Linked DNA regions of Homo sapiens. The protein of the gene in region 2 purifies or fractionates together with the protein of the main gene of each other region. This does not show direct contact. Each region holds a gene or a part of one and is shown on either strand. Other genes may lie near its edges.

Region 1 (3,651 bases), on a different chromosome or scaffold from region 2:
GCACTGCCATTGCTCAGTCTCTGGTTTCTTTGCTAGTCATGTCAGGGGTAGGGGCCGGGAAGGAGGGAGCCAGACCTGGCAGTGTCCCAGAGCCTCTCTCAGGGAATACACTGGGGTTTAATGTGATCTGTCTTCCTTGGTAATCACATTTTTGCCTTGGTGCGAGGAAGATATATTGGTGAGGTGTGTTTGTTAAAGAAATACTCTTAGGGGTGGTGGGTAGGGGCTGAAAACTACCACAGAGGTGGGGCTGGATGGAGAGAGGATGGAGTCTAGGGCTGGCCACTGAGGCGTAGGCCCTGCCAGGAAGCCAAGAGGCTGCAGCAGATCCCTCGGTAAAGAGTTAGGTGTGTGATGAACAGAGACTCGGAGCTGCCCTTGATTGGGTGTGTGGAGGATCTGGAGGCTTCACTTTGCTGGTGAGTAGGGAGCTAAGTGTCTGGTCGGTGCGAAGGGCCCTGGTCTGGCCCAGCCTACCCAGTGCCCCAGCGCCTCCTGCCCACGTGGAAGCAGAGTGAGCAGCCTTCCATCCTCTGAGATGGAGGAGGAGGCCGCCTGTCCTACCCAGGGCTTCCCTCTCTTGGAAGGCTGACAGAGGCCTTGCGACCACTCATCCTGTGTGGAGCTACTTCTGGGCTGTGTTCTGGCCATGAAGGGACAGTCGGTGCTGGACGGGGCTGTGACCAGCAAAGAGTGGAACAATCAGCCTTGGCAGATGGGTGTGAGCAGGGCATGACCCAAGGAAGCTCTTGCAGGCCTGGGGCTGCAGGACCCCGCTCAGTTCAGTGGGACAGATCTCCCCTTGGACATGGCTGGAGAGCACAGAGCATCTGGCCTCAGCCTTTTCCATCCCAAGTACCTAAAGCAGCCTGTCTCCTACTCAGGCCAAAGAGGCTTTTACGTGGGAAAGGAGACCTCGTCCTGTTGTTTCTCCCATACATTTTCACAAACAGGCCGCACTCCTTGGGGAGCCCAAACTAGGTGTTCTGAGAGTGAATGATGCTCCCCAAGGTGGGAGCTGTCCTGTTGGGGTGGGGCAAGGGTGAGGTATGGCTGGGAACAGCCTGACTGCACCAGAGGACGCTACGGGACCTGGGAAGGGGGAGGACTTATCTAGGATAGAGAGCAGCAGTTGGGGGTGGGGGAGGAAGGCAGTAGGAGCTGGCTGGGAGCGCATCACAGGCATCCAGGACAACCGAGGCCCACTGGAGTGGGAGGTGACCAGAGAGCACATGAGGCTTGGGACCACTCACCAGGAAGGCCAAGCCAGCACACCCCTGTAGACCAGCTCAGGGCAGGGTGGCTGTGAGCAGCTTCTGATGGCCACATCTGCTCCCACTCCTCTTCCAGATGGCCTATCCTTGCTGGGACCCCCACTCTGCACTCGGGCCTCTGCCACCCTCCCACCCCTAAGTGCCGAGGGCTAAGAAGTCCCCGGCACCCACAAGGGGCCCGGCCCTTGAAGGTGGGGCCTGACTTTACCCAGCCTGCTCCCACCCAGCCTAATAGGGCAAACGCAACAGGGATCATCTCCCTGGGGCCAGATGTCCAAGGCGCTCCTGGAAGCAGCCAGGAGAGTGTGCAGGTGACTGAGGAAAGCGAAGAATCCCTCCCTTGGCAAATGCAGAGACCTCCAAGTGGAGCATCTGATTCTAACAGGAAAAGGCAGGCAGAGATCTCCAATGCTAGATAGAGGTACCTCGCCTACCTCCCAAGGCCCTTGGAAACCTGGGAGGCAGGCAAGGCCTTACCTTGTGGGCGGCGCTCACGCAGCGCTGGTATGCCTTGACCAGGTCCGAGCACAGCAGCACCTCATGCGGGCGATCTCGGTAGCAGTGGAGAATCTGGGCCTGCAACCCTGAGCAGACGGGCTCCACCCTGCGGGGCCTGCAGAAGACAAGAGCAGGCAGGCCTGGGGCTCAGGTGCCAGCAGGCAGGGGAGAGAAACAACTCACATTCACTCCACCTACCTCCCAGGCGCTAGGCTAAGTCCCTGACACCCAGCAGCATCCTTTTAACCCTCAAGGAGAAGCACTGTGCTTTCCCGTTCTAGAAATGAGAGGACGGTCGCAGGGTCAAGCCCTGTGGTGGGTGGCTTAGGCTCACAATATAGCAGACACTGAAACATGCTGTGGTATGGGGCTCCACACCGGGCTCCTTCACTGGGGCCTGTGTACACTCAGGAGACAGGAAAGCCCCACTGGAGGGCCCCCATGAGGATGGTGCAGCCCGCCTCCAGGACAACCCGCCCCGCTGTGCCCAGGATAGCCATCCCTTTATGCCTGAGACAGCCCGCCCCACTGTGCCCAGGATAGCCGTCAGCTGCTTTCCTGGGCTTTCCTGTGCCTGTGGTTTACCCGTGACTATAACCATGTGACTTATTTTTTTTCCTGATTTAAAACTAATATGCGTGCAATAAGGAAAATGAAATCTACAGAAATGTCTAAAGAAATGAAAAATGTTCTTTTTACTTCTTAGAGGTAACCATTATAATATTTTGGGGGTAATTTACTATTTTTTTCTTTCTTTTTCAAAGTAGTTTTAGAACCCACAAAAGTGAGTAAGTTCACTTTCTAAAGTTGTGGAAAAAAAGAGCAAATATAGATAAACTAAAGTCAGTCACTGGCCCAGCCTCCTGAGCGTAATTTTGGATTGGTTGGTCTCCTTCCAGATTTCTCTCTCTCTCTCTCTCTCTCTCTCTCGTGCGCACACTGACACACACAACAGCACATTCGTGCACTCCCTGCCAGCCAGGTGCTGTCCTCCGGCTGCTGGGCGTGCTCAGTGCTGCTCCTTACAGCTCTGGTAGCAGACACTATCGTTCATCATGCTGTTCACACAAATGAGGAAACTGAGGCTCAGAGAATTAAGGCCATGCAGCTGGACAGTGGAGGAGCGGGACATATTTATTTACATGGCTTTGGATGTACTGTTGCTGCTCATTTGTTTTCTTAAGTGGGTTTTAGGCCAGGACCCTTCCCAGCTGTAGACGGACCCACTGTAACACTTAACAGCCTTTCCAAATTGAACACCACTCACGGCTGAGGGCACCAAAAAGAGCTGTAAAAATGTAGAAAGCCATTCCTCAAGTTTCTTAGCAATAGAAAGGATCACTGTCACACATGCCACAGCTCCACTCCAGGTACGTGGAGAGAGAGATATGTAGGTCAGTTGCTCTCCCACCAGGGTCTCCAGAGCCGTTATCATCTAACGATAACTTGAACACAGTTCCTCAGCTAGAAACCACCAGCACCAGGATGCTCGACAGCTTGGGAACAGGACCCCATATTTAGCTGTCTTGCTCTGGAAGTCTGCGGGTGGACACTTCTGTACACTGCTGACTTAGCAGTGATGCCACCTGGGTCTGGTCTTCCCTTCTCGTCCATGTCATCCCCAGGCCACTGTATGCAGCGCAGTCCTCTCTGCAGCAGAGGTCAAAGGGAGCAGGGAGGAGCAGGTCTCTCTGCTGTCTCATCTGACTACGCGGGACAATGCTCCCCTCAAACCCCACTCCAGGTTTCTCCTCCACTCACTGTCTAGGACCAGGTCACATACCCATGCCTAACACCATCGCTAACATGAGCAGTGAGTGTCCCATGTTCAGCTAAGGCCAGCAAGACCCATCCCCAGGGCATGAACAAAACGAACAGT
Region 2 (3,651 bases):
AAGTGCAACAGAAGGCAAAAAAAAAAAAAAAAAAAAAAAAAGGGAATTTTTCCAAGAGAAGGATTTTAATAACAGACATAGAATCAAGGCTGAGTAGTGAGGAAGGAAAAGACAGAAGGAAAACTGATGGTCAAAACTAGAGAAGCTAGTGGATTGGAGGTCTCAGTGAGCATGGAAAACTATTGTTTGTCATCAGTAAGTGAGCTGAAAGTAAGAGTTTTAGTTGAATGGTAGAATGTTTGAGTGATTTGGAGGTGGTGGAAAATGTCAAGTTCCAGTGAATGTAGATAGCTGAGGTAAAGTAAGGATAAGCAGAGGAAGAGAAATCTTCACAGAGTGTGAGATACAATAGTTTTGTCTTTAAAGATAAGTAGGAGTTTGTTTAGCACAGAAGAAGGTTAACAGAGTAGCAGATAGAAAAAAGGTGGGGAAACAGAACATATGGAGAAAGTGAGACAAAATTCATGGCTTATTGGGAAATAGAAGTAACCTCTAGCTTAGCCAGAGGTTACGGTACACCAGTAGAAGTTCCTGGAGAAACTGCAAATGTAGGGTAAAAACAAAGTCGGAAGGAACAGGTATGAAAGTTCAAGTAATTTGGACTTTATTTTGTAGCCCAAGTTGTCAATCATGATGTCATCAGACACTGGTGTGAATAAAGACTACAAATAATATATTTTTATTTTTTTCTCTTTGGGATTTGCAACTTGTGAATATCTGGATTTGTGATAGAAAGATGGATCTTTGCTCTGCTTTAGCAGGAAGCTAAGGTTCTAGAAAATTCTTAGCTATTCTTTGTTCTCTTTATTCTCTCCTCTAGAACTCCTGCATTGGACCTCTCTATATATCACTTATATATGCAAATCACAGGGGGAACATTGAATCAATTTTAAATCATTAAAAATTAAATCATTTGTAAACTTTAATACTTTGGGTATATATTAAATGTTAAAAGATTATCCACTGTTTCATTCGAGATCTGTTAACATAAAGATGAATTCATTCCCTTAGTACCTTAGAATATCTATCTAGACTTAGTGCTAAATACATAGAAATTTCTCAAGTACTTTTCACCTAATCCTAACCCATATTTTTAAGTTTTAGGACTTAATTCCTTTCTTGTTCATGTGTTGGAAGAAAATATAAATAATAACATATTTCCATTAAAATGTATGAGTACATTGCAAATTAAAACTAACATTAACAAACTTCCTCAGGACAAACAGTTGCTTTTAAAGTTTCTGTACTTAAGGGGACTGCTTACCTACGATGAGCCTCTGTAGAGCACCCTTATCTCCATTAACGGCAGCAGCATGGACTTGTGATGCTAATGATGAACCAGCAAACAGCAGGTTCTCTGACTTGTTCATAGTCTTCTTAGCAACCGGAGCAACCTGAAACAATGATTCAGACAATGAGCGCATGCAGCAAACATTTCTGAAACCTGTCTCATCAGTTCCAAGTGGGTATTTTATAAATATGGCTTACTAGAAATACTTGACTAGGATTAGAAAAATCTATAGTCCTGGCTGGGTGCAGTGGTACATATCTGTAATACTAGCAGTTTGGAAGGCCAACGCAGGAGGATTGCTTGAGGCCAGAAGTTTGAGAGCAGCCTGGGCAAGATAGTGAGGCTGTCTATCTTAGTGAGACCTGTCTCAAAAGAAAAAAAGCTATAGTCCTAGTCCTGGAATTGGCATTAGGTGGCAAATTAGGTGACTTTTGTACAAGTTGCTCATCTGCTCATCTGTAAAATGAGAGGGTAGGTGCTTCTAGGACTCTTCTTAGGGACTATCTGAGGAAAAAACAAAGACAATATTTAACATTAGGCACAGGGCTCAGGGTTACAGTGACACAAGCAATATGATGCCACATAATCTAAGTTAATACAAGTAATATGATGCCACATAATATTAAACATTAGAATTGATATTGCAAATAAAAGTGAGCCCGATCCACAAAAAGAGTATAACATAAACTCAATTGTGAAGTCAGAATTAGCTGGATTTAAGCACTAAATAAACTTAAAAAAATTAATTAGGGCTGGGCATGGTGACTCATGCCTGTAATCCCAGCACTTTGTGAGGCCAAGACAGGAGAATTTCTTGAGCCCAGGAGTTTGAGACCAGCCTGGGCAATATAGCGAGAGCTCATTTCTACAAATCCCATCCCCTCCCCTCCCTTCCCCTCGCCTCCCCTCCCCTCCCCTCGCCTCTCCTTTCCTCCCCTCCTCTCCCCCTGCTTTCCTCCCTTCTTGTCTTTTCGAGACAGGGTCTTGCTCTGTCACCCAGGCTAGAGTGCAGTGGTGCGATGTCAGCTCATTGCAGCCTCTGCCTCCAGGGCTCAAGCAAGTCTCCTGCCTCAGCCTCCTCAGTAGCTGGGATTATAGGCACCTGCCATCACGACCGGCTAAGTTTTGTATTTTTTAGTAGCGACGGGGTTTCACCATGTTGGCCAGGCTGGTCTCGAACTCCTGATCTCAAGTGATCTGCCCACCTTGGCATCCCAAAGTGCTGGGATTACAGGCATAAGCCACCATGCCCTGCCTACCAAAAGTTTTTAAAAATTAGCTGAGCATGGTGGCATGCACTGTAATCCTAGCTACTCGGGAGGCTGAGGTGGAAGTTTCACTTGAACCTGAGAAACAGGGTTTGCAGTGAGCTGAGATCACACCATTGCATGCCAGACTGGGCAACAGGTTGAGACCCTGACTCAGAAAAAAATAAAAAAATTAGTTAAGGCCGGGTGTGATGGCTCACGCCTGTAATCCCAGCACTTTGGGAGGGCAAGGCGGGCAGATCACCTGAGGTCAGGAGTTCGAGACCAGCGTGGCCAACATGGCGAAACTGTGTCTCTACTAAAAATACAAAAATTAGCTGGGCGTGGTGGCGCGTGCCCATAATCCCAACTATGCAGGAGGCTGAGGCAGGAGAATTGCTTGAACCTGGGAGGTGGAGGTTGCAGTGAGCTGAGATCGCACCACTGCACTCCAGCCTGGGCAACAGAGTAAGACTCCATCTGAAAAAAAAATTAGTTAAAAAACTATTTTTAAAGAGATGGGATCTTGCTATGTTACCTAGGCTGGAGGGCAGTGGCTATTCATAGGTGCAATCCCACTACGATCAGCATAGGAGTTTTGACGTGGACCAGTTCATTCCTTCTTAGGCAGCCTGGTGGTCTTCTACTCCTGGGAGATCACCATATTGATGCCAAACTTAAAGTGGACACCTGAATGGCATAGCGCACTACAGCCTGAAACTCCTGAGTTAAGCGATCCTCCCTCCTCAGCCACCTGAATAGCTGGGACTTCAGGCATGTGCCATCACACCTGGCTAAATACTAAATTAAAAGGTATCTAGGTCTTGCCGTCATTCTCACAAAAAGTGAAATTTTTATTTGTTCTCTCCTTGGTCCACCAGGAAAATATACCTAGATAGAGGTCTTAACCATAAGATCTTACTTGGAACATCGTATCACTAAAATGAACCATATTTCAATAAGGACAATTTTGTTCTGACCGGTAGTCTCATGGAGCTTGTAAGAACCTTTTAAAAACATATGACAGGAGTTTGAGAGACCAGCCTGACCAATATGGTGAAACCCCGTCCCTACTAAAAACACAAAAATTAGCTGGGCTGTGGTGGCACACAC

Evidence for each region.
Region 1: the proteins of INVS (region 2) and CHCHD6 purify together in Homo sapiens (affinity purification with mass spectrometry; one large-scale study listed by BioGRID and IntAct). This does not show direct contact.

Annotation. Positions count from the first base shown.
Region 1 is NC_000003.12:126,955,652-126,959,302, reverse strand, and holds part of CHCHD6 (MICOS complex subunit MIC25), read right to left. Parts: intron 1,888-3,651; coding exon 1,752-1,887; intron 1-1,751. UniProt on the Homo sapiens protein: Component of the MICOS complex, a large protein complex of the mitochondrial inner membrane that plays crucial roles in the maintenance of crista junctions, inner membrane architecture, and formation of contact sites to the outer membrane.
Region 2 is NC_000009.12:100,102,241-100,105,891, reverse strand, and holds part of INVS (inversin), read right to left. Parts: intron 1,395-3,651; 5' UTR 1,371-1,394; coding exon 1,265-1,370; intron 1-1,264. UniProt on the Homo sapiens protein: Required for normal renal development and establishment of left-right axis. Probably acts as a molecular switch between different Wnt signaling pathways.